6 separate regions of the Homo sapiens genome follow, and regions 1, 3, 4, 5 and 6 are each linked to region 2. The links come from fine-mapping of genetic effects on plasma protein levels. Region 2 holds a variant in brackets. A gene starts in each other region. All regions are shown on their forward strands.

The links. A credible set is the group of variants that fine-mapping cannot tell apart. PIP is the posterior inclusion probability: the model's chance that the variant is causal. Protein levels are from antibody-based Olink assays in UK Biobank. Linkage for the fine-mapping came from a reference panel and not from the study's own genotypes, which makes the PIPs less certain.
Region 1: SMOC2 starts here. The variant in region 2 is the best candidate, but not a certain one, in a credible set for the plasma level of the SMOC2 protein (UK Biobank, PIP 0.90).
Region 3: BSG starts here. The variant in region 2 is the best candidate, but not a certain one, in a credible set for the plasma level of the BSG protein (UK Biobank, PIP 0.53).
Region 4: it holds the start of CD59, and the variant in region 2 is the best candidate, but not a certain one, in a credible set for the plasma level of the CD59 protein (UK Biobank, PIP 0.82).
Region 5: it holds the start of WFDC2, and the variant in region 2 is the best candidate, but not a certain one, in a credible set for the plasma level of the WFDC2 protein (UK Biobank, PIP 0.81).
Region 6: GM2A starts here. The variant in region 2 is the best candidate, but not a certain one, in a credible set for the plasma level of the GM2A protein (UK Biobank, PIP 0.90).

Annotation. Positions count from the first base shown.
Region 1 is chr6:168,438,561-168,443,415 of GRCh38, forward strand. SMOC2 (SPARC related modular calcium binding 2) reads left to right here and starts at 2,624. Exons shown (of 13, transcript NM_001166412.2): 1 at 2,624-2,894. The coding sequence starts at 2,811.
Region 2 is chr16:20,378,268-20,383,122 of GRCh38, forward strand. The region is part of intron 3 of PDILT (protein disulfide isomerase like, testis expressed); the gene reads right to left. Among named protein-coding and RNA genes, the nearest start is that of PDILT, 24 kb to the right of the region's middle. The variant G/A (reference allele first, on the strand shown) is at 2,743.
Region 3 is chr19:569,770-574,624 of GRCh38, forward strand. It overlaps BSG (basigin (Ok blood group)), which reads left to right and starts at 2,827. Exons shown (of 9, transcript NM_001728.4): 1 at 2,827-2,932. The coding sequence starts at 2,866. BSG-AS1 (BSG antisense RNA 1) reads right to left here and starts at 2,479. Exons shown (of 3, transcript NR_184018.1): 1 at 2,340-2,479; 2 at 1,671-1,827. RefSeq lists enhancers at 1,075-1,647, 1,728-1,777 and silencers at 2,598-2,817, 2,988-3,167.
Region 4 is chr11:33,733,708-33,738,562 of GRCh38, forward strand. CD59 (CD59 molecule (CD59 blood group)) reads right to left here and starts at 2,716. Exons shown (of 4, transcript NM_000611.6): 1 at 2,675-2,716. RefSeq lists a silencer at 2,365-2,834.
Region 5 is chr20:45,466,765-45,471,619 of GRCh38, forward strand. It overlaps WFDC2 (WAP four-disulfide core domain 2), which reads left to right and starts at 2,989. Exons shown (of 4, transcript NM_006103.4): 1 at 2,989-3,096; 2 at 3,625-3,768. The coding sequence starts at 3,018. RefSeq lists silencers at 3,654-3,843, 3,864-3,913.
Region 6 is chr5:151,250,843-151,255,697 of GRCh38, forward strand. GM2A (ganglioside GM2 activator) reads left to right here and starts at 2,343. Exons shown (of 4, transcript NM_000405.5): 1 at 2,343-2,455. The coding sequence starts at 2,375. LOC124901115 (a long non-coding RNA gene) reads right to left here and starts at 343. Exons shown (of 3, transcript XR_007059003.1): 1 at 132-343. RefSeq lists a silencer at 1,954-2,303.

The DNA.
Region 1 (4,855 bases), not on the chromosome of region 2:
TATCATTTCTATAATGAAAATAAAATCCTTTTGCAGTTTTAGCATAGTAAAATAAATAAAAAGGAAGCCAATACTCATGATAAAGCATTTTGCTAATGGCCTAAGAGGGAAAGTTAGTTTAGAAATGTGAAAACAGCTGGAGTCTTTGGTAATTAGTTTCTCTTGCTGTTCTTTATTGTAACTTTCATCAGTGACAGGCATTTAAATTCTGAATGCATAAGCCACATTTTAGAATGGGCCCTGCATCACTTTTTAATTAAAAAAAAAAACAAAAAAACCTACATTTCCAAGAGAGGGGAACTTCTTCCTGCATCCTAGAGGAACTCTCTGGAAAGTATAGAGCTGATCACTTCCTGTCTTAACTTTGAACTGAGTGAATTACTTTTCTATCCTTTCTAACATGACAGCTCTCTGGCATTCCTGCCAGTAATAACTTTCTTGGAGACTTACAAATAAAAGACAGACATAACTCTTTCCCAGTGTTTTAAATAAATGTATTGTTTTTCTCCATAAAAATGGAACCTGATTATCTCTCCAAACTCCATTTCTAGAATTTTGAGAAACTAAAATTTGGCATTCAGGACACATGAGCTCCTCCAGATTTGAAAGGGGTTTCAAAGGCTCCAAACCTGCCTCATCTGTCAGAGTTTTGGACAAATGCATTTCATTTATCTTCCTAGAGTTCCCAGAGGATTCTGGAGTTGCTACATGAAAGACGTGTTGGGATTCTTGAATACAAGGCACGGAGGGCCAAGGATTTTCTTCTGTTCTCCATATTGCCAGAGGAAGTGACATGGATTTGCCAGTATTGCAGGTTTTAACATCTGCATTCTGTTTATGATTTTGTTGCTTAGGAGATCTGGCTAAGACATTTGGCCCCTTTGACTTTTGTTCCTCATCTGTAGAATGGGAATAATTAAGTCTGCTTCTTGTCTGCCATTCTTGCAGCGGACGATGGTGGATAAATGAACATGCTTTCAAACTTTTGAGTTCTGACGAGCAGTACTCTCAACAAAGTGGAAAGTGAAAAACAGGTTCTTTAGTAGCAAATACTTCTTAAAGGAAGTATGTCAGCTTCGAGTGTAAATTTTATTCTTTGGATAATCTTAGAATTAGTGGTATGTAGTGTTTATTTTCTTTTTACTTTAATTTTCACTGCAGTTCCCTAACAGTGATTCCTATTTACTTAATCATTTGCAGCTGCTCTGCTCACCTGTTTTTCTGGACCCAGGAGCAGTCCCTCAAGAGTTTTATTATAATTTCCTTCTAAGTCCTTAAACCAGGAGGAATGTGTTTAAGTGCTTAATAGATTCCCTGGGCTTTGGAATTTTAAGGAGAATTCTGAGAGTAGCCCTCCTTCAGGAAAAGGTGCATTTCTTTCCCGTCTTTCCGTGGCCCGACGGACATCACTTTCCTGATAAAATTGTGTGGGAAAGGTTGCAATAGCATTGCCTTTGCCTCAGCAGCCAGTCCCAGAACTTGCTGATACAGCCCCCTCCCCCAAAGTTCATAGCCAAAGCAGTGGGCTAGACATCGGATGAAACCTCAGATTTGGATTTTCTGTGTTTTGTGCTTTTCCCAATGCCCCTGACAAGTCAATTGATTCATTGTTCTTGAACAAATCTTCACTCTTCTGGCTTTCTGTGTGAGACAGAATTAGGGCTTTTTCCTGTAAAGTTATAAGCCAAGGCTAAACTATGTCAGCAATGTTGTCTGCAGTGGATATTATCCAGAGTCTGGGTGTGCAAAAATTTCCTGGTTTCCAACGTAGTCTTCGTGGGTGAGTTTACAACCTCCACAAGCCCTGTGCTCCCCGCACAAACACCTGAAATGCTTTGACAGAGCTGTTTAAAAACAGCCACATGTGTCTGTGAATGATGCCCAACCACATGCTCCCCCGACTTGAGAGGATCAAGGCTACAGCCCAGGTCAGACCCCGGATCTTTAGGACCTAAATTCCCCCATCCCTGCAGTGGATAACCCCGTGTAAAGATGCCAAAGGCGGGCTGCCCCCGGCGCAGCCTTTCCTGGACATGTGTTCCCAGCTGCCTTTGCTGGAGCGCCGCTGATCCTTCAGCACCTCTGAGAGGCAATGTTCTGGGCTGGACCAGGGGGCCTTAGAGGGCAGAGGTCAAGGAGAACCCCGGAGTCTGGGGACCGGCCAAGGCTTGGCGTTAACCTTTGTGGATGAAAAGTCCCGCTGGGCTGATCCTGCGCGGACCGGGCCTGGACCCTGGGGCGTGAGGAGGGCGCGGTGCGTCCCGTGGTTGTGCTTGGAAGCCCCCCGAGGGTGCGCGCGCGTGGGTATGAGTGCGTGCGTGTGCCTGGGTGTGCGTGTGTGTAAGTGTGCACGTGTGTGTGTGAGAGTGCGCGCGGGGAAGGAGGCACAGAGACAGCCCGGACAGGCCACTGCGCAGCCCTGGTGGCCCCCGCTCCACCTCTCGCTCCGCAGACCCGCGCCAGGGAGGCCTCTGGGCCGCAGCGGGCACCGGAGCGGAGCGGGCGCGGCAGCGGGCGCTGGGAGGTGGGGCTGGGGGAGGAGAGGGGGAGGGAGAGAGGCGGGCGGGAGGGGAGGATCCGGGAAGCTCCGGGGTATTTGACAGGAGCGAGGGCGGACGCAAAGAACGCGGAGGACCTCTGGGTGCCTGCAGGGGAGCTGCTCCAGCCGGGCCGCCGGGAGCGGTGGGGAGAGCATCGCGGAGCCGCCCCTCCACGCGCCCGCCCAGCCGCGCTCGCCCACTGGGCTCTCCCGGCTGCAGTGCCAGGGCGCAGGACGCGGCCGATCTCCCGCTCCCGCCACCTCCGCCACCATGCTGCTCCCCCAGCTCTGCTGGCTGCCGCTGCTCGCTGGGCTGCTCCCGCCGGTGCCCGCTCAGAAGTTCTCGGCGCTCACGGTAAGCCCGGGCCCGCGGGACCTGGAGCTCAAGTGGTGCCGCCTCTTGCAGCCGGCCGGGTTCGGGTCCCCGCGCCCCGCTCCAGGCCCAGGCGCCTGGGCACGGGGAGCAGGTGGCCCCGGGGGCCGTGGAGCCTTCGCCTGCCGGCGAGGCTGGAGCAGGTAGGACGCAGCGTGCGCGCCTGGGACCCGGCTGGGATGGGCTTCTGGGGACCCTGCCCGCCGGGGTCCTGCTGCGGCTGCGACGGGCTCCTCGGGTTCCACCCGGCTGGGACCCCACCTGCCTCGGGGGCTCTGACCCGGCTGTGAGAGGATCCTGGGGTCCTGCAGACCCCGGACAAGTGGGAGCTGCGGGTGCGCTCGGGTGTCCCGCACTCACTGCTGGGCCTGAGCCTGTGGGGAACCAGGTCTGGGAGCGCCGGCGCCGCCCCGCGGACTGTCCCAAGGCCAAGACAGACCCGCCGGGACTGGGCGCCCACCTCGCCCACGGGGACCCGGCCTGGAGCGTGTTCTCCCGACCGCTTTGGGCTCGTGCGCCGCGCGGATCCCGGGCCTCTCGCCGGCTGAAGGGGCTGCCAGTCGTGGGCCCCACTCGTGGGTCTGACTCTCCCAGAGACCCTCGTAAGTGAGCCGAGGAAGAAGCAGATGAGGTTACAGATGATTCTTCACGGGCCTGAGTGTTATTAGAGAAGCGCTTTCTTCCCTTCTCAGGACAGAACTGGAGGCAGGCGGCGGCTCCCCGCTCTGCGGGGCCTCTGGGTTCTTCCTCGTGGCAGGGATGCTGCGCTCCTGAGCGCGAGGGTCACCGCGGTTGACCGCTGTGTGTTTTTCTTTCTGAGCTGTAACTTCTATGCGACAGCCTTGGCCCGGCCAACGCACGCGGTGTCAAACGAGGAGCTATGTAGAGGGGGCTGAGCCAAGCCCCCGCCGGCCAAGCCAACCCGCGGCGGCCGCTGGGCCAAGGCCGGGTGTCTGCAGCCCCCAGCTCCAGCCGTCCTCCTGGGCTTGCAGGGTTTGCAAACCCATCATTAATGCAATCGCCAGAAACGAAAACATTCCACTTAAATGTGTTTTTGAACAAGTGTTTGAGAAAACACGAAGGTAGTGAGAACGCCTCTGGTGGACAGCCGTCTTTTTTAAGTGGCCGGGGACTTGTCCTAAAGGTGTTTATTGTATTGAAAATAAAGATGGTTGAAATAAGCTGTGGTCGGTTCTGCCTTTCAGCAAATTTAAAACAGTCATGTGGGCATCTTTTCTTTTTCTTTTTCTTTTTCTTCGTCTTCTTTCTTTTGCGTTTTAGCAGTGTGAAGGATGGTTTGTGAGTTCATTGCTCATACCTCAAATTCTTCTGCAGCAGCCCGGGGTCCCTGCCTTGTGTCTCACAAATGACTTGTAGATTAGAAACTGCTAACTGGGGCTCCAAGGAGGTTTTCACACACTCAGGCTTTCCCTGAAGATCCTTTATCTCCCCAGAGGGGGCCCTCAGAGGATACTCACTGGAGGCATTCATGTATATGCACATCTGTACATGCATCTAGACATAAATATACTCACGTATACACTCACAAAAAGACCCCCCACATACTCTTAAAGCACACTAGAGGAGACAGAGAAACTAAGGCCAATTCTCCAAAGGAGATCATAGCATTTTCTTCCAGGACTGTAGCAGCAGGTACCTACAGTTGCCACGGATTTTCAGATTTTCTGAAAGCGCAAAAAGTAGAGACTGCCATCTGCCTGCTGCCCTGTGTGTGTGGGGGGTGGGGTTGGGCCTGTTGGTCCCCCCTGGAAGAGCAGAATCAAGGTAGTTAGTAATTAGAACAGTTTAAGACTCGGCAGGTTTTCTTGTCTTCTCTCCCCTGTCTCATCTAACTATTTACTTGAACCCTCTCACCTTTTGCCCCCTTGAGGTTGCCCCAAGGATGTCTTGGGTTGCGGTGAGACCCGCTGCATGTGGGGTCT
Region 2 (4,855 bases):
GTGACTACAACCCAAATCGAGAACTAGAACATCACCAGATCCTCAGCAGTCCCTGTTGTGCCCACTCCCAGCCTCTACTCCCCTCAATCCAAAAGTAACCACCACTCTAACTACTTCTTCTTCTCCTTCTTCTCCTTCTTGTTCTTCTTCTGCTTCCTCTTCCTCTTCTTCTCCTTCTTCTTCTTTTTATTTTACCTTAAGTTCTGGGATACATGTGTAGAACATGCAGGTCTGTTACATAGGTATACATGTGCCACGGTGCTTTGCTGTACCTATCAACCCATCACCTAGGCTTTAAGCCCCGCGTGCATTAGGTATTTGTCCTAATGCTCTCCCTTCCCTCGCCCTCCACTCCCAGACAGGCCCCAATGTGTGATGTTCCCCTCCCTGTGTCCATGTGTTCTCATTGTTCAACTCCCACTTATGAGTGAGTGTGTTTGGTTTTCTGTTCCTGTGTTAGTTTGCTGAGAATGATGACTTCCAGCTTCATCCATGTCCCCGCAAAGGACACGATCTCATTCCTTTTTATGGCTTTGTAGTATTCCATTGCCACCTTAACTTGTAACAGATTACATTAGTCTGCCTGTTCCTGAACTTCATATAAATGTTCTTGGCTCTGGTTTCATTATGTTTGTGAGATTCAGCCACAGTTTTTCATGTACTTGAAGATTCATTTCCACTGCTGTGAATATCCCACAACTTATTTGTCCATTCTCTGCTAATGGGCATTTAGTTGCTCTCATTTTAGGGCATTTTTTTTTTTTGAGACAGTTTATCCTTCTGTCACCCAGGCTAGAGTGCAGTGGTGTAGTCGTGGCTTACTGCAGCCTCGATCTCCCAGGCTCAAGCCATCCTCCCACCTCAGCCCCCTGAGTAGCTGGGACTACAGGCATGTACCACCACACCTGGCTAATTTTTATTTTTTGAGACAGAGTCTTGCTCTGTTGCCCAGGCTGGAGTGTAAGGGCTCAATCTTGGCTCACCGTACCTCTGCCTCCCGGGTTCCAGTGATTCTCCTGGCTCAGCCTCCCGAATAGCTGGGACTACAGGCACGTGCCACCACACCCCACTAATTTTTTAGTATCAGTAGAGACAGGGTTTCACCATGTTGGCCAGGCTGGTCTCGAACTCCAGGTGATCCTCCCGCCTCAGCCTCCCAAAGTGCTGGGATTACAGGCATGAGCCACCACGCCCAGCCCACACCTGGCTAATTTTTAAGCAATTTTTAGTAGAGACGAGGTTTTGCTATGTTGCCCAGGCCAGTCTCGAACTCCTGGGCTCAAGCAATTCTCCCACCTTAGCCTCCCAAAATGCTGGGATTCCAGGCATGAGTCACCATGCCCGGCTGGGGCTATTCTGAATGAATTCTTGTGCATGTCTCTGGGGCACACTGTATGCACTTCTGTTGGGTGTATAGCCAGCAGGAGAATTTCTGGTCATAGCAGATGCCATGTTCAACTTTAGTAGATATAGTTAAGGTCATGTTAAAAGCCACAATGAGTCAAACCTATGGAAATTCATGTGAAGCTGATATGGTGGCTTCAAGAGAAGAGAGAAGGAGGAGGCATCATGCCACCCTCAGACCTTGGTACCCCACATCTGCTGTAATTCCCTCCTCTGAGATATCAGCCTCAACACTGAGTTTCTGTACAGTGTTTCCAGCCATCTTTAGGTAAAAATAAGTCACACTTGGAAACAAATGGTTTCTCTTATATGCTTTTGTCTGGCAAAAGTATATTGTAAGTGATCCAAAAGGAATTGATTTACAAAATCTGAAAATATCCAAAAACAAAACCTGCCAAATGAATTTAAATTTCAGGTCATCAGAACCATTGCTCTGATGTCACTTTGTGCCACCCTCTGCCCTTTCCACACTCCAACGTTACAGTTATCTTCCAGAACACTGGCTTCAGCCTTGGCTTGTCCCTCCTGATGGGCTGCCCTTTCCTCAGCTCTTCAAGGGCAGTGCCTTCTTCTGCCTGTTCAATTCTCAGTTGGTTCTTCTTTTCTTTTAGCCAATCACTCTCTGTCTTATGACCTGTTCTATTTTCTTTTCTTTTATTTTCTTTTTCTTTTTTTCTTTTTTTTGAGATGGAGTCTCACTCTGTTGCCCAGGCTGGAGTGCGGTGGTGTGATCTCAGTTCACTGCAACCTCTGCCTCCTGGGTTCAAGCAATTCTCTGTCTCAGCCTCCGGAGTAGCTGAGATTACAGGTGCCCGCCACCACACCCAGCTAATTTTTTGTATTTTTAGTAGAGATGGGGTTTCACCATCTTGGCCAAGCTGGTCTTGAACTCCTGACTTCGTGATCCACTCGCCTTGGCCTCCCAAAGTGCTGGGATTACAGGCGTGAGCCACCGTGCCCAGCCGAGCTACCCTATTTTCTTCATTGAGTCTATCCCTTCTTGAAATTATTAGAATGATTTTTCACTAGCTTGTTCAGTGTGAGCTCCCAGTAAGCTCCTGTAATGCCTGGCACATAGTAGATGCTTAAGAAATCTTTCTAGAATGAATGAATGGGCTGAATGAATCATCAGGGAAGCTGGCTTGAGGAAACTTGATCTTGGGCCATCTTCTTGGGGACGTGTGAGCTCCATTTGCCCCTCTGGCCCCTGTGGGACCGAGGTAGTTATGAACTCTGCAAATTGTTGATTCCTTTGTGCCTGCAGATCAGGCACTGCCCTTGTCAGGGACCTCCTTTGGTGCTTGGCTCTGTGCCAGAGGACACGGTGACAACTGAGGT[G/A]TGAATGCAATGTCAATGATTGACTAGGACCAGCACTGGGCTGCATATTTCCAGGCACAGACTGTGGCTGCATCATTAATAGAGGCCTAGAGGCAACCTGAGTCTCCCTCCTTCCAGAGCAATGGCCATGGCCAAGTCTCCTGCCATCAATCCTTGGAGATTAGATGAGAATGGGACTGGGGCTTTGACCCTGCAAGGACTAAATCCCACCAGTGTCCTAAGAGGAGTTTTCATCAAAGTCACATTGCAGAAGATGCGTAAAGCACTGTCTCCTCTCAGCTCAGAGGAGCCCTGGCAAGTAGGCAGAACTGGCCTTACTCATCCTGTTTAGAAAATGAGAAATTGGGCCGGGTGCGGTGGCTCACACCTGTAATCCCAGCACTTTGGGAGGCCGAGACAGGTGGATCATGAAATCAAGAGATTGAGACCATCCTGGCCAACATGGTGAAACCCCATCTCTACTAAAAATACTAAAAATTAGCTGGGAGTGGTGGCACATGCCTGTAGTCCCAGCTACTCGGGAGGCTAATGCAAGACAATCACTTGAACCCGGGAGGCGGAGGTTGCAGTGAGCCGAGATCGCACCACTGCACTCCAGCCTGGCAAAACAGTGAGACTCCATCTCAAAAAAAAAAAAAAAAAAAAAGAGAAATTGGAAGCCTGGTTGTAAAAGGCTCGTTGAAGTTCCCATGGTTACTGCTCATCCTAAAATCCAGGCATCCTCAATCCCTGTCCCAGCTTCATCCTGGCATTCCCTTTGCCCTTTCTCTGGTTAGAAGTAATACTGAGGAAGCAAGCCCAGCAGAAATATGGGTGGGTACTTTACCCTATGCCCACCTGCAGTGGGTGCTTCCAATTCCATTGTATTCAAAATCTAAAACTTTTATTATTATTATTTTAAAATTTAGAGACAGGATCTCACTCTGTCACCCAGGCTGAAGTGCAGTGGTGCAATCATGGCTCACTGCAGTCACAAATTCCTGGGTTCAAGCAATTCTCCCACCTCAGCCTCCTAAGTAGCTGAGAATACAGGTATCTGCCACCACACCTGGCTAAGTTTTAAGGTTTTTGTAGAGACAGGGTCTTGTTATGTTGACCAGGCTGGTCTCAAACTTCTGGGCACAAGTGATCTTCCCATATCAGCCTCCCAGAGTGTTGGGATTACAGGTTGAGCCACTGCACCTGGCTCAAAAACTATTTGTTAAGAACTTAATTGTTCCAGGCATTGGACTAGAATGAGAAAACTAATAGTCTGATAATAATAATGAACACATCTGCCTCTTGCTTAGAGTACAGCGCAATGTAAAGCGGATTTCAACATACTATAGCCTGTAGTCCAAATCTGGCCTGCTGTTTGACTGTATAAATAAAACTTTATTGGAACACAGTCATTCCCATTTGTTAACACGTGGCTGCCTTCACATTGCATCAGCAGATCTGAGTAGTTACAACAGAGACTGCCTGGCCTGTAGGATCTGGAATATTAATAATCTGGGCCTTTGCAGAAAACATTTGCTGACTCCACCACTACTCACTGGGCAGCTTTGAGGAAGTTATTCTACCTTTCTGTGCCTCAGTTTCTCCATCTGTAAAAGCACCTCTTATATTGGGGTGTTATGACATAGGAGAAGGGTCTAGAACAATGCCTGGAACACAGTATATGCTACAGGTATGTGTCAGGCCGTGTGCCTTGCAAACATCATTTTATCTTCCCAACAGTGTAGAGGGGTAGATCTTTTCACCATCCCCATTTAACAGATGGAAAAACTGAGATTCGACGAGCGGCAGTGATTGTTTCTTAAGCCTGTGGTAAGGATTTGGATGCAGAGGGGAGTGCTGTCAATTCTGGCAGTCTCTTTAGAGGACCCAGGAGTGCAAGTGAGATCAGCCACTGCCCTTGTGATGCTCTCTGTAGAGAACAAGCAATAAGTAGCAGATGTAATTCTTTGAGGCGAGGGCCTTGATGGGGAAAACACAGATGCTGTGAGGCCACAGAGGTGGAGCAGGCACCCTGGCCTGAGCAGTCAGGGGAGACTTCCTAGATGGGGTGATGATGAAGCTTCCTGTATGGCAGACGAGGTCCCAGGCACTGGTTTCCCTGATGAAGGGGGCT
Region 3 (4,855 bases), not on the chromosome of region 2:
ATCCCACCCAGGATCTTGGGCCAGGAATTTACGCTCCGCTGAAAGGACGTTCTGACCGGGGGGTGTTCACGCTCCCAGACTAACACAGCGGCCTGTGAATCATGGTTCTCTCTCTCCTGAGACGAGAGTACTGAGGGTAGACATTAATTCAGCCCAAGCGTACAGCTGTGGCCCCAGAAATTGGTCAATTTGATCCGCGAATCCAAAAGGGTCATCTAACAGTGGTTTGAGTTCTTTTAGATTTCTAACCTCTGAACTGGTTAAAGGGGGCATTTACGAAGTCAATATCCCTTCCTCCCGGTGGTCCTTCCCTAAAGGGGAAAAGGGCTGAGGCAGGTCTTTTTGAGCAGGAGGCAAAAGGAAAGTTCTGTGGGTTTTTGTTTGTTTGTTTGTTTTTTGAGACGGAGTCTCGCTCTTGTTGCCGAGGCTGGAGTGCGGTGGCGCGATCTCGGCTCACTGCAAGCTCCACCTCCCGGGTTCAAGACATTCCCTGCCTCAGCCTCCCGAGTAGCTGAGTAGCTGGAATTACAGGCGCCCGCCACCACGTCCGGCTAATTTTCGTATTTTTAGTAGAGGCGAGGTTTCATCATCGTGGCCAGGCTGCCAGTCCTGAACTCCTGGCCTCGTGATCCACCCGCCTCTGCCTCCCAAAGTGCTGGAATTACAGGCGTGAGCCACCGCGCCCGGCCGAAAGTTTCGAATATCCCTTTGGCATTGTTCTGTTTCCCGTTGGAGCTTTCCTGAGGAAGGGGCATGTTCTAGTGGCTGTCCAGCGGGGATGTGGGTGGCAAGGTCCAGGTGGTTCTATAGGGGAGGGATGGAGGGGCGGAGGAGCGGGTGGGGGAGGGGCGGAGGGGCGAGGGGTGGGTGGGAGGGGCGGAGGGGCGGGTTGGGGAGGGGCGGAGGGGTGGGGTGGGTGGGTGGGGGGGGCGGAGGGGTGGGTTGGGAGGGGCGGAGGGGGTGGGTTGGGAGGGGCGGAGGGGGTGGGTTGGGAGGGGCGGAGGGGGTGGGTTGGGAGGGGCGGAGGGGGTGGGTTGGGAGGGGCGGAGGGGTGAGTGGGGGAAGGTGGTCTAGAGGATCCCACCCTTCTTTAGATATGGGGCGTCTCTGCTAAAAATACAAAAATTAGCCGGGCGTGGTGGTGCGCGCCTGTAATCCCAGCTACTCAGGAGGCTGAGGCAGGAGAATCGCTTGAACCCGGGAGGCGGAGGTTGCAGAGAGTCGAGATCGCGCCGCTGCACTCCAGCCTGGGTGACACAGCGAGACTCCAACACACACACACACAAAAGATATGGCGCGTCTCATTCATTCACAAGTTCCTCTTCAAAGGTTTGGCTCGTTCAGCGCCCTCGTTCTTCGTTTCCTACTTCCAAGGCCAACCTGACTTCCTCACCCTCTGGGCCTCCCCGTCTGAGTCTCAGTAAACAAGTTTCCCGCCGGTCCTGATCTGCAGAGATGGCACCTGCCACCCACTCTGCACATCCCCCTCCCGTCGCCACGGGCTCTTCCCGCCAGTGTAGCCACATTCCTGCCCCTTTCCAGTTAGCCCTTCGCGTTCGGCTTAGTCTGCGGTCCTCTTGCATTGCGACTCCGAGTTTAACTTCCAACACACACTTTCAACCTCCAAGAGACGCCCCCACCTGTGTCGCCCCAATAGCGACTTTTCTCACCGTGGTCGCCGCGGAACTTCAAGGGTCCTTCCTACCCGCGTTGCTGAGAGTCTGGGTTTACGCGTCACCTCGGGCGGGACCCGATCCTCCGCTCCTGAGGCCCCCACAATGAAGCAGTCGGACGCGTCTCCCCAAGAAAGGTAACCGCCAGCCTCTCCTGAAACAGAATGGGATCCAAATGGGATATTTGGGGGCGGCGAGTCGGTCCCGCAAAGAGAAACCAGCACTTAGAAAATTTCTCAGCGAGACCACTTTACTTGTACGGAAGGGGGCTGCCTGCGTGGGATGCAATCTCCAGAGCACACGGGACAAAGGAAGGGAGCTTCTGTTCCTCTGTCCTTTCCCTGTTGGCTGGGGTTGGACGCCCACAATCTAAGCTGATCCCGGTTGGCTAAAACTTAAAACTTTTTTAAAATAGGGTAAACGCGCCACCTGCGAGGAAAGAAGAAGGGGGTAAGGTTGATTGACAACTTTAGACCTGGAAGTTGAGTTTCTGAAGAGGAACTTACTTGTCCCAACCAAATGGTGCACAGGACGTTTATACTAAGAAATTATTCATTTTCTGAGATCCAGATTCAAGTGCCCTTTAAGTATTTTTATTTGGGCGGAGGAGGTCACTTCCTCCCACCTAATTTATTAATACGTTCATATATATATATATATATGTACATTTTTAAAGGCAGAGATGTGCGTCTCGCCATGTTGCCGCGTCTGGTCTCGAGCTCCCGGGCTCAAGCGATCTTCCCGCCTCGACCTCCCAAGGCTCTGGGAGTACAGACGTGAGCCACAGCGGCCGGCCCGTGTTTAACTCAGATAAAATCTGGGTAACACACTTTCAACGCTTCAACCCCCTCGGGCGCACCGCTCTGCGCTCATTGCAACTTTGAAAGCAGGAAGGAAGAAATGCGCAGGCTCCAGCCGCGTCCCCGCAGGCCCCACTCCCGTTTCCTAGCAACGCCGGGTCACGTGCGCCGCCGCCCGGATTCCGTAGCGTGAGCCTGCCGGAGCCGGCGCGTACATGCGAGCGTGTGCGCGCGTGCGCAGGCGGGGCGACCGGCGTCCCCGGCGCTCGCCCCGCCCCCGAGATGACGCCGTGCGTGCGCGCGCCCGGTCCGCGCCTCCGCCGCTTTTTATAGCGGCCGCGGGCGGCGGCGGCAGCGGTTGGAGGTTGTAGGACCGGCGAGGAATAGGAATCATGGCGGCTGCGCTGTTCGTGCTGCTGGGATTCGCGCTGCTGGGCACCCACGGAGCCTCCGGGGCTGGTGAGGAGCGGGTAGGGGGCGGGGGTGCGGTCCTGCAGGGGCCGGGAATGGAGGCCGCGGTGCCGACCCGAAGCCGACGGGAGCCTGGGGCCTCGGCGCGGGGCGGCCTGGGGTGCGAAAGGCCGGCCCCGGGGGCTTCCCGCGCCAGCATGGAGCTTGGGGGTGAAGTCCCAGGGTTTGAGGGGGGACTAGAGGTTCCTCCCGGCGCGGCCTGCCGGGCTCCCCCGGGCGCTCCGGCCTCGAGCCCGGCCTCTGTGTGTGGGCGTGAAGCTCCCTGCTTGGAGGCGGGAGCCAGGGGGTCCTGGCCAGGCCGGTCTTGGTCAGGGGAGGTGGGCGTCTTGCTTTTCGGTCACCTGGGGTTGGGGGTGACCTGCTTCCTGGGTGAGGGCGTCTGCGAAGGCGGTTGGAGGTGGCCCGCCCGCCGGTCCCATCGGCCAGGAGAAGGGAGACCCAAAGCCTGGGTGAGCGTCCCCTTTGGCCTGGAGCCAGGGGTCAGGGGCTGGTTGGTGCCTGCCCAACCCGTCCTGCTGGGGCTGGACTCCGCAGGACCTGGGGAAAGCGGCCTGGGCGTGGAATCTGGAGACGGGTCCACCCTGCCTGCGAGTGTTAGGGTCAGAGACCCTCCCCTGAGACTCTCTGGGGCCCCCGCAAGGGCCCGTGCGGCCTGGAGCGATCATCTTGGCGCTCCCTTCTGGAAAAGGGGCTTTTGTCCTCCAAGAGCACATGGAGGCTCTGAGTGGGTCAGCCCTCCGGATCGGGAAGGGATTACCGTTCTTCACGGGATTTAGCCCTGGCGTCTTGCCTAGGGCGTGCACCTGCCCCCGGGTGTTCTCCCAGACTCTTAAGACCTCGCAGGCTCCCTCGAGGGGCCCTGCGTGGAAGGGAAGGCGGAATCTCCCTCTGATTCTGCCTGGATTCAGCACCCAGAATGAGGTGGTCTCTGAACGCCCCTCCTCCTTTACAGGCGAGGAAACAGCCCTGTGGGAAGTCGAGGTTCCAAGGTCACAGTGAGGGGGCCCTGGCCACCCGATTCAGCGCAGGAAATAGTGAGAAAGTCGTTTTTAGCCGACTCTGACCCGCATTCGGTTTCCAGTGCTGTCTTAGGAGGGCCGTGTGTTGAGGGTGGGCAAACGTGGTTTGGAGAGCGCATTTGGGAAATGGATTGAGGTGTGTTTTTCCGGGAGAAAAGCATGACATCCTTTCTTGCTTCATAGAAAATTTCTTCCTTTGTTGAGACCCCCATTTGGTTCTGGGTTAAAGATTTATAGTGAGGCCGGGCGTGGTGGCTCACACCTGTAATCCCAGCACTTTGGGAGGCTGAGGCGGGTGGATCACCTGAGGTCAGGAGTTCAAGACCAGCCTGGCCAACATGGTGAAACCCCATCTCTACTAAAAATACAAAAATTAGCTGGGCGTGTTGGCGCACGCCTGTAATCCCAGCCACTCAGGAAGCTGAGGCAAGAGAATCGCTTGAACCTGGGAGGTGAAGGTTGCAGTGAGCTGATATCATGCCACTGCACTCCAGCCTGGGTAACAGGGAGACTCTGTCTTTAAAAAAAAAAAAAAAAGAGGTCGGGCATGGTGGCTCACGCCTGTAATCCCAGCACTTTGGGAGGCCGAGGCGGGCGGATCACGAGGTCAAGAGATCAAGACCATCGTGGCTAACACGGTGAAACCCCGTCTCTACTAAAAATACAAAAAATTAGCCTGGCGTGGTGGCGGGCGCCTGTAGTCCCAGCTGCTAGGGAGTCTGAGGCAGGAGAATGGTGTGAACCAGGGAGGCGGAGCTTGCAGTGAGCCGAGATCGCGCCATTGCACTCCAGCCTGGGCGACAGAGCGAGACCCCGTCTCAAAAAAAAACAAAAAAAAAATTTATTGTGACCGATGTGTTGGGAACAAGGTGCAGAGCTGGAGGGTCTGGCC
Region 4 (4,855 bases), not on the chromosome of region 2:
AGTGAACGAACCATAGTTAAACTCTAGTGGGGAGACGGGAGACTTCTTATAAATTCAGCTTCTGAAATACATTAGTTAAGCTGAGGTCATTAGAGAAGAGAGTTGACATCAGTGGTGTTTCCACAAGATTCACAGTTGCCCATGAGTATGGTTACTCCTCCTAGGAGCCTGAGGCCTTACAGACTGAAGAATTTTAAGGCTAGAAGTGTCCTCAAAATAAAACCCAATGTTTTTATTTTATAGGAAATTAGTGGAGGCCCAGTGGGATGAAATTACCTGTCCCAAGGCAACATGTTAGTCGCAAAACCACCCTGGATGGATCTTGTTTCTATTCGCCAGGGGCTGGCAACTCACAAGATACCTAGTGTCAGCAATGTCAGAGAACTAGAGCTTTTGAACCCCAGGTCTGCGTGTCACCTTGGAGACATACACAATACCTGCTCTAGCCATGCCTGTTGAAGCGCCCAGACAAACATCCATCACTCAGTTCACGGAACAAATTACATCAGCAGGAAGAGACAAAGAGAAAACAACCATCATAACGGAAAAGGCTTTCCAATCCAGCCAAGGTTCTCATGCCAGGAATAACCACTCCAAAACTCTTTGTGTGATATACATATAAATTCTAGGGTACATGTGCAGGATGTGCAGATTTGTTTCATAGGTAAACGTGTACCATGGTGGTTTGCTGCACCTATCAACCCATCACCTAGGTATTAAGCCCAGCATGCATTAGCTGTTTTTCCTAATGCTCTATCCCCACCCACCCCACCTGCCGACAGGCGCCAGTGTGTGTTGTTCCCCTCCCTGTGTCCAAGTGTTCTCATTGGTCAGCTCCCACTTATTAGGCCAGAACTCTTTGGACCAAACAAATCTGCAGCTTCCCCTACAAGGGCCTTTCCTGCAGTTTGTTCCGGAATGCCAATCCCTAACTCTCCAAAGAGTCCTATCTCCGCACTCACGGCCCCTCCCGTGTTAAGTACACATGCAAAACCAAGGTTTAGTGAATATGTTTCCTAAGATATAGGACATAAGTAAAAAGAAGTCTTTGCCTTTAGAAAGCCTCAAGCACTTCTGGGCTTGGCAATGTCTGTGGCGGTTTGGCTGAGGTTCTTAAAGAGGTGGCCCAGAATTTTCCATGCTCTACTTTTCAAGAGCTTCTACCAGCAGCTGTCAAAGATGAATGCCATTAGGCACCCCACTCTCTCACCCTAAGATCCATTTTATTTAGGCTTTTATCTCCTAAGCCACTCAGCTAATGGGATGTTTTTCTTACAGCTAAGTTCAGCAAACAGTTTCTAGTTTCCACTGTGAAAATACAGAGGCCACAAGTTTTAGGACTGTTTGGCTTGTAGGGGAGGCAGCCTCCCTTTCTGCCTCTCCTTCATAAACTGCCACGTAAATAGCCACATTTTGGCAAACGTTGCCATCTCCCTCAACATTCGGGGCTCTGTGCCTTCTTCAGGGAACTGGGAGTAAACCGCCAGGAGTGGAGAACTTGAACAACTGCTCAGGGATCGCAGGGTACCTGAAATAATTAGCAGCCGCCGCGTTTGTGCTGAGCGCTTTCCGTCAATCATCTCAACCACCCTGTGAAGTGAAGCCTATTGTTTTACCCATCAAGTGCTGTTAAATACTTCCAGAAATGACCAGTGAAGAGCCTGGGTATCACTAAACGGCCATAAAAGGCACACTGCTTAATGTTGGTTTTTTTTGTTTGTTCTTTGTGGGTTTTGTTCGTTTTTGAGGCGGAGTCTCGCTCTTATTGCCCAGGCAGTAGGGCAATGGCGCGATCTCGGCTCACCGCTACCTCAGCCTCCCGGGTTAATGTTGTTTTTTGAAAAGTCAGCAGTCAGACTCTAAGAAGGGTGCGGCCCGAGCCGACCCAAGAAAACAAAACATCACGTTGTACTTAAAACGTCCGTTTCGGCCGGGCGCGGTGGCTCACACCTGTAATCCCAACACTTTGGGAGGCGGAGGCGGGCGGATCACGAGGTCAGGAATTCAAGATCAGCCTGACCAACATGGGAAAACCCCGTTTCTACTAAAAATACAAAATTTAGCCAGGCATGGTGGCGCATGCCTGTAATCCCAGCTACTCAGGAGGCTGTGGCAGGAGAATCGCTTGAACCCGGTACACGGAGGTTGCGGTGAACCCAGATCGCGCCACTGCACTCCAGCCTGGGCAACAGCGAAACTCCATCTCAAAAAAAAAAAAAAGTCCGTTTCGCCCGACACCTGCTTTTCAAAATTACACATTTAGACCGCGAGGGGAGAGAGGAACTGCCGTGACCACGGAGGGCTGGCCTTTCCCCCGGCGCAGTTTCTCTGGACCGCTAGAGCTTCCCTTGAGACGAAAGCGATGGCAGGGGCCCGGGTGCGAGGCTGCCCCCGAGGGAATGGGGGGCGCGACGGGGGTAACGGGGCTGCTTCTGGGAGAGGGCGCGCTCCCCGTTTCTCCTTCCTCGTAGATAAAATGAAGCCAGCGTTCGGCTAGGACACCGGGCCGCGGTGACGGGTTGGAAGGGCCAGGCCTCGGGAGGCTCGCCCGGCAGGGGTCGAGTGGAAAGCGAGGACGGGGGTAGCCCCCACAGACCCTCCGCCCGGGCCCAGACTGCCGCCGCCACCTCGGCTCGGCTCACCCAAACCCCAGCAGGCCTTCGGGCCTTCTTACCTGGCGGCGCCCAAGATCCTCTTCCAGCCTCGAGCCGCTTCTGCGCTCAGCCCCCGCATTCTTTCGCTCCAGCCCGCAAGGCTCCGCCCCCCGGCCCCGCCCCTCAGGATGCCCTTGCCCTCCCAGGCTCCCGGCTCCCGCACCGCGCAGCCGCACCTCGGCAGGAACCTCCTCCTCTCCCTCCACCCCCGCGCGGAGCTCAGCCTCCTGGCCCAGGTTCTGAGAAGGCCGGGTGGCCAGGACCCAATGAGCACCTTCAAAACCCCAGGGAACTGAAAGTTTGGGGCGTCCTCCTCGGATTTGCTATGGGACATAAAAACAGTAGGAAACTTCCAAAGACTTCTGATTTTCCCTTTTACTTTTTTTTTAAGTATATTAAAATGTTTTTCAAAACGTTTCTGTGCGTCTTGCTGGTGCCCTGGGTGCCCCAGGGCCTGGCTATCGGGCTATGCGGCCCTGCTGCAGTCTGAAGCTGCTTCCTACTGCGAGGCTTGGGCAGCATCCAAATAGCCATCAGCCACAGCCGCATCCGTATCCGTGCCTTGTGACTTGTTTGAGACCCAAACAAAATGTTATGCGTTTAAAAGCTTACTGGGCTGCTCGGGGACCAGTGTTTTGAATGAACCTCTTCGAGTGTCTCTATCAACTTAGCTGGTAGCTACTGTTCCCCAGCAGCCACCAGAGGCAGGGACAGAAGAGCAAGACCAGGGGATCCGCCTGCATGAGTCTGTCCCTTCAGGGTGGCCTCGCCTCAGGGACTGGATTGTAGGCATGGTTTCAATAACACAGCGGTGTGAAAGTTTAAGAGTTTTTAGTACTTACGGACCCTGGGTGGTACACAGCTTGCCTAGAGGACACACACACACACACACACACACACACACACACACACACGGAGATCAGGGAGAACAGGGAGAGGGAAGGGAGGAACGGACCTTTGGGCCAGCAACTTTATCCAGTTAGGTTTCCTCTGGAGAGCTCTAACTGGTGGATTTAAAAGCAAGCAGGTGAAAAGGCAGAGGTGGGAGGAACTTGAACCAGAGTTTGAAGCTGCAGTAGTGCCCTGTTATCACATCACTGCATGTTTATCTCTGGCCACCAGCTAGAGCCATTTGCGTGGGGTATAGTACTGGAAACTGTCAATGGTGACTGAGACTTGCTTCTGTTATTAAAAGTTAAACATATTCAAAAATGGATGCTGAGGTAACAAAAAATTATAAGCACTCACCAGAACCGCAACCACCATTTGGAACATTAGTTTTATGTGCAGATGTAATTAGAAGTTTCCATTTGCTATTATATTTGGAAAGTGTCCCACTCACTGCAGAACTGACTGTAAGAACGCCATAGGAGGGAGGGTGGGGCTACAGGCCAAAAGTACAAGTCTTCCTCCAAGAGGATGGCCTCTGTTAGAAAGCATGAGACACACTTTGAGGGTCAGGGTGAGAAGATATTACATCTCAGGGCTGCTTGTGTTGAACTGGTCAGGGAAGAAGGCATGAGATAAAATTTAAGCAGGGGGAATCATAGATTACTGAATGTCTTGCAGGGAAAATCATATAGTAACTGTCTTGACGCTTCTACTGTTATTCTGATGGCTTTGGGATGTCAGGGAATGAGTTCCATTTGGTGGTGCTCAAATCCTGGTATTCCTCTATACAAGTGGGAGTTTTTTAAATCAGGATGACTTGCTTTGATATTTAAAGCATGTCTCCTTAAAACAGCTAATACTGTATATTTCCCAAGATGGATTCCAAAGCTCTTTTGTGTACATACCTTACACACATCCTGTTAGCTATTCCTTCCTTGACACGCTTGGCTTCTGAGATGCCACTCTCTCCTAGTTTGGTTCCCTAGAATGGTTTCTTGACCATTCGGTCTTGAGATTCTTTTCCTTTACCCACTAATAATTTGGTGTCCCAGGATTAGACTGAGAACCATGGCTGTGTGTGCTCCCTGGGAGACTATAGTGTATCTACTCTTTTACCTTGGGATGTATGTTTGCAGATGATTCAAAAGTCTGTCTCCATCCCTGACCACTCCCCCTATCTTCATATTCATATCCAGCTGACTGCTGGACATCTCCACTTATATGTTCCACAGACATCTTGAACTTAATGTGCACAAATCTGAATTCATCTTTAAAGAGTGACTGCTTTTCCTGAATTTTTTTCATAAATG
Region 5 (4,855 bases), not on the chromosome of region 2:
TGGGGTCAGGTGAGCACTGTGAATGGAACTAGTTGCAGAGAGGGAGGATGGTGGTGGTGGGGATTATGGGAAACTGGAGGGAATGCTTCCCTCATAGAAAAAGAGTAGCTGTACTTAGGTTCTGGTTTTCAAAGTATGGTCCCTAGCCCTGCAGCATTGGCATCACCTGGAAACCTGTTAGAAATGCAAATTCTCAGGTTCCAGACCTACTAATCAAAACTCTGGGGATGGGGATCCTGCAATCTGTATTTTAATAAGCCTTCCAAGTGATTCTGATGCATGCTTAGGCTGGGCACTGTGGCTCACACCTGTAATCCCAGCACTTTGAGAGGCCAAGGCGGGCAGATCACCTGAGGTCAGGAGTTCGAGACCAACCTGGCCAACATGGTGAAACCCCGTCCCTACTAAAAATACAAAAATTAGCCGGGTGTAGTGGCGCCTGTAATCGCAGCTACTTGGGAGACTGAGGCAGGAGAATCGCTTGAACCCAGGAGGCAGGGGAAGGGAAGGGAAGGGGAGGAGATGGGAGGGGAGGGGAGGGGAGGGAAGCCTGGGGGACAGAGCAAAACTCAGTCTCAAAAAAACAAAAACAACAAAAAAAATGATTCTGACGCATGCTCAATTTTGAGACCTGCTGCTCTAGCTGATGGTTGTTATATCTAAGATTGCAGGACTGTGTTGCCAGATCTTTTACTTTTTCCAAGAGAAGCTAGAGGTTTATTTTTATATGAAATTCGCTACTTTTAAATCTTGGCAACTAATTTAAAAATTTAAAACATACTGTGTAGTTAATAATGTATGTGCTCTAGCCAGATTTGCAACCTCTGATTTATGCTTTTTCCTTTAACCCTTATAATAATCTTATAAAACCCTTATAATAATCATCCAAGACTGTTAGGATGATACACAGTTTATGCAGGAAGAAGATGCAGGCCCAAAACATGAAGTGTTTCTCTAAGTCACATAGCCAGAAAGTGGCCATGGATGCATTGTCCCTGATTGGGCATGGATGCATTTGGTTCTAAAGCCTCTGCCCTTTTAAATGATGTAAAGAGAATATCTATAACTATACCTAGCACGGAACTTGGCACCACAAAAGCTAAACATCTGATGCCATTGACTGATGAAAATTCCTTCCCCATCCTTCTGCCTGGCCCTGCCACTCTCCCTCAGTCTGTATTCCTGTAAGAGAGAGCCAATCAATAGGGTGCTCATAAGGGCCTGGGAGGAGCAAGGCTGGGCAGTTTCCTGGCCCAGGGAGCTGAATAGGGCCCGGAAGAAAGCTGTTGGCAGCAGTGCCTGGGGCTGAATGTACAGTAGCCAGCTGGGTCCACGGGCTAAAAACTGGCTGCTCACCCCAGTGTTCTCTTTGTGCCCTAGACTGGGTTTCACTAGCCTGTTATGGGCTGTGTTCCCACCTGGCTCCTGCCCTCATTGTTGACTGAGCTCAGAGTAAATAGCCCTGGCCCCTCCCAATAACGTCCCCAGTCCCCAAGTTGAGCATGAGAAGCTGGGGGAGGTGTTCTCAGCATCCATTTTGGGGACAGTGGCCAGATGTACTCACATCACCAAACCCTACTCACCTGTCACTATCATCCCAGTGTTCACTGCCCCAGGGCCCCTCTAGCCTCCAGCAGCAAAGACCTCCTGGGGCTTCTAGAACCTCAGATCATTGGAGCAGGAAGCACTTCTTGTCTAACTCCCTGGGTAACTCTGTTTTGGCACTTAACCCCCTGGATTCTAAAGCTTCATTTATACTTATTGGTCTCCTTCGTCACAGGAGACACTTATCTGTGGAGCACTCATGGCCATGTATCCAGTACCTATCATGGGTCAGGCCTGGAGTCCCTGTGTCAATCAGTGTGGATCTACTCTCAATGCTCCCAGTGAGTACATGGTTGTTCCGTGGCAGGAACGTTGCATTTGTGTTCTCACTGAAGTCCCATATAGGTGTCATTTTCACTGATGATGTGGCAGCTCAGATCCAGGAAAGGATTCATTCCAGGGCCCTCAGGTGGGAAGTGGTGGAGGTGGGAGTCAGACCCCAGACCCTGTCACCCCTTCAAGACCAGTGCTGGAGGGCCCCTTTTGACGACTTTCTCTTCACCAAGCGTCTTGCCCTGCATATGTCACACAGTAGGCACCCAGTGAATATTTACGACGGAATGGAAAAAACAAGGGCCTGGAGGGAGAGACCTGGGTTCAAAACCTTATTTGTACAGCTTTGCAGGGGACCTTGTGGTGGAGGTGCGGTCCTAAATCCCTAAACACTCAGTTCCTTTGTCATATACAGCTGATAACAGTAACTCCCCGGTCAGAGGACCGGCGACAATTCCTTGAGACAAGGAGCACAGAGCCTGGCACAGTCAGCCCTGATCAGGGGCCGGTAGGACAAAGAGAGGGAGACAGAAACACACACCCAAACGGCTTGAGACTGCTAGGTGCTTCACCTTCCTGGGCCTGTTTCTGATGAGGAGGGTTTGTTTATTAATAATAAGTGCTATTTCTGTAGCCCCTACTATGTGCTCTGTATCACTACCCTAGCCCTCCATCAAGAGGGATCTGCCCTCTCATCTGGCTGACCCCAAATCGAACCCTTTAACCCGCATGCTCTACTGCCTCCCTGCGGGCCCTGCCTTATCCTCCTCAACCGCCCACTGGGGACACTCTGGAGAAACCTCGGAGTCTTGGAATAGAAACCCAGGAGCCCTGAGCCTTGGCCCTCAGGCCCCAGGAGGGAGGTCAGGAGGGAGGCGTGGACAAGGGTCCGGCCGTAGCTGGTCCCGTCCTGGAAGCTGCTTAAGTTCCTGGTTCCCACCGGGGCCAAGAGTGATACCTGATCCTGGGGGATTGTGAAATGACCTCATGTGGCAGCCCGCCCGCGGTGCCCGCAAAGCCCTCCACCCTCCCCTTCCCCGCTCGGCTCCACCCCTACCCCACGCCCCCTCCCGCGCGCGCGGTTAAATCCCCGCACCTGAGCATCGGCTCACACCTGCACCCCGCCCGGGCATAGCACCATGCCTGCTTGTCGCCTAGGCCCGCTAGCCGCCGCCCTCCTCCTCAGCCTGCTGCTGTTCGGCTTCACCCTAGTCTCAGGTGAGTGGGGCGGGGAGAGGCCCGGCGCCTAGAGGGGCCGAGCCACGAGCGCCAGGATGGAGCCAGGCGGAGGCGTAGCCTCTGGAGGCTGGGGAAGTGGGAATTCCGGGGGCGGAAGTGGCGGGGACCCTTGGAGCCTAGGGTGTGGGGTCCAATGTGCTGGAGGTGGAGAGACCACTGATGGCTGCAATTTGGGAGGATTCTGTGCTGAACGCGGACACTCCGTGGCTGCAGTGGGCTGGGGGTGGGGGCTGCTCTGCCTCGACCTCGGAAGCTCCGAGACGCTCAGCTGTGCGGCGTCCCCTAGGGCTGAGATCTGAGGGCCCCGACGCCAAGGGTTAGGGAGCTCTCGTACTCCCAGGGGTCAGGGACTCCTGGTCTGGAAGAAGGAGTCTCTGGGGGCTGTAAGGGGACTCCTAGGGCCAGAGACTGAGAATTCCTTGGGGTTAAGGTTTGGAGCAGGAGGTGGGCATCCTCTGGGGCTGGCGCTACGCCCCACCCTCGACTGTCCCGGGCCTCCCCTCCCAGGCACAGGAGCAGAGAAGACTGGCGTGTGCCCCGAGCTCCAGGCTGACCAGAACTGCACGCAAGAGTGCGTCTCGGACAGCGAATGCGCCGACAACCTCAAGTGCTGCAGCGCGGGCTGTGCCACCTTCTGCTCTCTGCCCAATGGTAACCCCACGGCGGCCGAGCGGGAACGGGGCGGGGCCGCGCTGGGCTGGGAGGAGGTGGGAGGGCCCGGGTTCCGGGAACAGGGGCGCCCCCGGACCCGGGGACCCCCGGGAAAGTCAAGGCGGTTGAAACCAGATCCGTCAGTCCTCTCCCTCGCACGGCCCAGGGGTAGACAAAGGCGTCGTTGAAACGCAGCCAAGGGGGGGTCCCCACCCCTAGCTGGGATTCGAGTCTCTGGTGCATGACGGGCTTCCGGGCACGCACAGCCGGGACATTGTTCCCCGCGGCCTGGGGACCCGGGGCCGCAGTTTCCTTCTCGAACCGGCCGAAGCCTGCCCTGCGGGAAAGCCCGGAGCCTGGGGCGCTCACCTCTCCTCTTGGAGTCCCTCCCTGGGGGCCTCCCCCAGCCCTGGGGAAAGACTGGGAGAGCCTGGCCTGGCAAGATTTTCCCCAATTCCTCTGTCCAGGCGGAAAGGAACTTTACAGATTTAGGAAAATGCCCCGCTCATCTTAAAGATGTGTAAGGGAGCATCGGTGAGAAAAAAATGTTCTTGCCCAAGGTCACACCGCCATCCCATGGCTGCTGGAGTCATAGTGAGGGTTCAGCTTTTGCCTTTCAGGCCAACTGGCTGAGTGATTCGAAGAAAGTGAGGAATCCTCCCTGGACACTGTATCGCCCTTCGTCGTCTTTCAGTCAATCTCTTCCACTCTAAGGATTGAGTGAGCGCGAGCTGGGGACTCTCTCAAAGGTGCTTGCTGGAGCTGCAGTCTCCACCAGGCTATCAGAACAGGGGGTGGCTTAAACAGCATGGAATCTCAGCTTTCCGTTCTCCAGAGGAAAATGCTGAGGATTAGAGGCAGGGATAGGACCTGGAGAGAACCAAGGTACTGTAATGATGTTCTTTATCCAGAATACAGCCCCTGTGACTTTTCCTCTCTGTTATTTCCTTGAAGATGCCAGCACAGGCTGGGAAGGTTTGTAATACGGTGACCCAAGACACCGATCAGCAGGGAGGTGGTAAGTGGAGGGGGACTGGCAGCCCACCAAGGGCAGCTTCAAGGTCATGAGTCCCCTCCTCTGGGCCAG
Region 6 (4,855 bases), not on the chromosome of region 2:
AATTTCCTCTGTGCTTAGGCGCTGTCCACCGAGTTGGGTTCCGAGTTGGAAAGGAAAAGAGAGAGGGAGAGAAAAATTCCCCTGCATTAAAAGGGAAATGGAGAAAAATAAATCCCAAGCTTTGGGCCTACCTTCTCTCCTGGCTGGCTTGCCAAAATATGTTACCAGTAGAGGGTTTTGACTGAAAGTTGTCTAGGTTCTTGGCGTTTTTGAACAAAGAATTGGAGAAAACACACAGAAAAGCAAGGGAAAAATGGAGCAATGAAAGAACAAAAGCAAGGGTTTATTAAAAATGAAAGTACACTCAACAGTGTGGGAGCGGGCCAAGCAGCAGCTCAAGGGCCCAGATACAGAATCTTCTTGGGTCCAAATACCCCCTAGAGGTTTCCCATTGGCCACTTGGTGCTCACCTCATGTAAATGAAGTGGTGGCCCGCAATCAGTCTGACTGGTTAATCAGAGGCCGAAGTGAAGTTACAAAGGTCATGCTCCTGTGCAAACATCTGATTGGTTGTGGAAAGCAACCAATCAGGCTGAAGTGAAGTTACAAAGTTGCACTTCTATGCAATTTTAACATATAAACTGAAATGTAGCATAGAAATCGAAATGTACTTTCAATTTCCCATCTGCTGCACAGAAAAGGTGGGGGGTTGTAAAGAGAGTAGCCTCTGGTCCTCTTGTTACTTAGGTGTGGAAAGTTAGGGTTTTCCTTTCGATTTAGTTCTAGGAAGTCAGCGTGAAATGGCCTTAGGTTCCCTGCCTGCAGACTCTATTCTCCTACCTCAGTTGGGCTAGGTGAAAGGGAAGAGTTGATCAGAATGGGAGGATCATTATGTAAAGTATGGAGCTTAGTTAATAATAGTGTACCAATGTCATGCCCTCAGATTTAAAAAAAATTTTTTAATTTTTTATTCTTTTGCCACCTCCTTGTCGCTGGCAGTGCCCCCCAGTTATGCACAAGCACAAGCTCTGGGTCTGCAGTCTGAACCCCCGGCCAGGCCACGGGTGTCTTATCAACAATAGAGGAAACGAACAGAACTTTGTAGTATTTTTGCAACTTTTCTGTAAACCAAAATAAAAAGTTTACTTTAAAAAAGATGATCAGGTGAGTTTTAAATTCTACACATGCATTCATGTACTCAACAGATTGTCTATTATGCATCAGGCACTGGGTATAAATGAGTGCCTGCATCATGATGCCACCCCTTGTGTAGTTTACAATCCTGTGGTAAATTGGCGGTATTGGTAACAACATCCCTGTTTTTTCTAAAAGCAAATCTCCAACTAGTATATTAACCTGACAAAATCTTGGCTGATGGGGTGTCTAAAAAGAAGTCTTGCTCTATTCCTTCCTAGCTGTGCGACCTTGGCAGAGCTAACCTCACTGTGTATCAGTTTCCTCAGTGCTAAAATTGGGGAAGAAAAAAAAAAAGCATTCCCTTGTGCGTCCTTAGCATGCTTTCAAGCAGTTACTAAATGTTAGTTTTTATAACGGTTATAATTATTAAAAAGATACGGATTCGTGAAGTCAAGAGATCAAGACCGTCCTGGACAACACGGTGAAACCCCGTTTCTACTAAAAACACAAAAATTAGCTGGGCGTGTGGCGCGTGCCTGTAGTCCCAGCTAGTCGAGAGGCTGAGGCGGAAGAATCGCTTGAACCTGGGAGGCAGAGGTTGCAGTGAGCCGAGATCGCGCCACTGCACTCCAGCTCGGGCGACAGAGCGAGAGTCCGTCTCAAAGCAAAAAAAAAAAAAAAAAAGACACACATATGGGGAAGCGTAACATGGCAGAGAGTCTGACATTTTTGTCCGGAAGGACTTGGGGATGAAAACACTGAATCCGCGGTTTCCCAAAGGTCCTTCCAAAGGTGACGGCCCCGGCACGAGTTCACAAACCACAGCTCCGCCCCATCCCCTGCCCGGCCCCGCCCTTCCCAGGAGCTCTGCTCCGCCCCGCCCCCGACTCCGCTCGGCCCCTCCTCGCGCCACGCCCCCGCCCCTCCCGCGCGCGCAGCTCCGCCCCGCCCTCGTGATCCCGCCCCAACCTCGTGCTAAGCTCCCTTCCGTTCCAGCCGCCTTCAGCCCCGCCGCGCTCAGTTCCGCCCCTTTCTCTTCCAACTCCGCCTACGCCCCAGAGAGGGAAGGCCTTGACACCTACGCTAGAGAGACAGGCTCCAATGAAAAGAGCGAGGGGGCGGAGCCGGGAGGAATCGGTCCAATTCTCGGCCGGGAAGTCTCTGGCCGGGACGGGGCAGGGCGAACCTGCCAGTGACTGGACTCAGCTTCTTTGCGTAACCAATACTGGAAGGCATTTAAAGGCACCTCTGCCGCCACAGACCTTGCAGTTAACTCCGCCCTGACCCACCCTTCCCGATGCAGTCCCTGATGCAGGCTCCCCTCCTGATCGCCCTGGGCTTGCTTCTCGCGGCCCCTGCGCAAGCCCACCTGAAAAAGGTGAGTGCACCCTCTTTTAAGAGTCTGTTTGCAGCCTCCTGGCCCAGCTACGGGTGTGCGGGTCTGGCTGAGATATGGGGGTGGCCACTCCGTTCTCTAGAATTGGTTCTCTGCACTAGAGCCTTCCAAAGTAACTAATTATGGGATTCTGGTCTGTACAATGAGGGTGGCCTCTAAAGACTTGTTCTGCTCCAGGCCCTTTTTGGAGAGATTAATCTCACGTCTGCACTCTCCTGCCCTCCCTCCAAGCGCCGGAGTGAAAATGCAGACAGCCTTAAAACTAAGGCATTGCCCCCAGAGATTCAGTCCTGTTAACCCTGCACCTTACTCCTGACCCCCACTCCTTATGTCCCCCATGATAAGGCCTGCTGCCTCATCTCTTCCCCTGCTCGAATGCCCTGAGGTCTTCCTGAGAGTTGGGAGGGTTTGAGAGCTTTTCCAGGCCAGAGGATCCAGATTTGCCCATCTGGTGACAAATACCCAGGCCTGTGACCCCGCTGCCCTTGGTTATGAGCCACTGAGACAACAGTCCCCGTACCCTCCAAGCTTCCTCCTTCACTTCTCATTGACACCGCTTCTTCCTTCACTTCTCATTCACACCGTGCTGCAGATCCCTGGGAAAGGGAAGTTCTGTAATCCCTTCACCTGAAAAAGCCTCGTTCCTGGCTTATTGCAGCTAGCCCAATGTCTTTCAGATTCAATCTATGTTGTTGCAAATGACAAGATGTTCCCCCTTTTAAAGGCTGAATAGTATTCTGTTGTGTATATATGCCACATTTTCTTTATGCATTCAATTTGATGGATAATTTCTTCATCAAGTGTCTGTTGATGGATAATTTCTTTATCCATCAAGTGTCTGTTGATGGACACTTAGGTTATTTCCATATCTTAGCTATTGTGAGTAATGCTGCAATGAATATGGGAGTGCAGATAGCCCTTCGAAATGTTGATTTCAGTTCCTTTGGATATATACCCAGAAGTGGGATAATGGCTCATATGGTAGTTCTGTTTTATTATCTCATTTATATGCGGATTCTAACCAAGTTGAACTTACAGAAGTTGAGAGTAGAGGTGGGGTCTCACTCTGTCACCCAGGCTGGAGTGCAGTGGGGCGATTGTAGCTCACTGCAGCCTTAAACTCCTGGGCTCAAGCAGTCCTCCCACCTCAGTCTCCTGAGTAGCTGGGACTGCAGGTGTGGGCCACCAAGTTCTGCTAAGGAATAGGCTTTGAGATTTATTGCACACCAGGGTGACTATCGTCAGTAATGTATTATATACAGAAGCTCCTTAACTTTCCATGAGGTTATGTTCTGATAAACCCATCATAAGTTGAAAATGCATTTAATACAGCTAACCTGAGAATCATAGCCTAGCCTACCTTAAACATGCCTAGCCTACCTTAAACATGCCCAGAACATTTACATTAGCCTACAGTTGGGCAATATCATCTAACACAAAGCCTATTTCATAATAAAGTGTTGAATGTCTCATGTGATTTACTGAAGACTGTACTGAAAGTGAAAAACAGTATGGATACTAAAAGTACAGTTTCTACTGAATATTTATCACTTAGGCACGATTGTAAAGTTGAAAAATGGTATGTCAAACCATTGTAAGTCAGGAACTGTGTGCATTTCAAAACAACTAAGAGAATACATTTCACATTGCAGTGTACCCCATAAATGTATACAACTATGGTTTGTCAATTTAAAAAAAACCCAAGACCAGGTGCGGTGGTGCACACCTGTAATCCCAGGACTTTGGGAGGCTGAGGTGGACAGATTGCTTGAGCTCAGGAGTTCAAGACCAGCCTGGGCAACATGGTGAAGCCCCATCTCTGCAAAAATACAAAAATTAGCTGGGCGTGGTGGTGTGCGCCAGTATTCCCAGCTACTTGAGAGGCTAAGGTGAGAGGCCCAGCTACGCCTGAACCTGGGAGGTCATGGCTACAGCTGAGATTGCACCACTGCATTCCAGCCTGGGTGACAGAGTGAGACCCTATCTCACAAAAAAACCCCAAAAACAAAAACCCGATTCCATTGCCTCTTGGCTGCTAGCTGTGGTCAAGACATCACACATTTCTGGTAGCAAAGGGATAGGTCCAACCCTGATCCCCTCCCTTCTACCATCTTGGAAGTGTTTGAGAGTGAGGAACAGTGCTGTGTAGGGGAAAGCGGGTGATACTGAAAGCAGGGAGGCTTGGCTTCTGATCATTCCCCTGTCTCAATCCATGGATTTCCTGAGTCTTGTTCTCCTCATCTGTAAGATGGGTGTGATGGTGCCAACGTGCATCTCGGGGAGTTGTCGGTGAAGGGAAATGCATTCATTGATGGAAAATTTCTAAAATCAGAAACAAATAAAGCCATATAAATCTGTGGGCTTGGCCTCACTCTGCCCCCG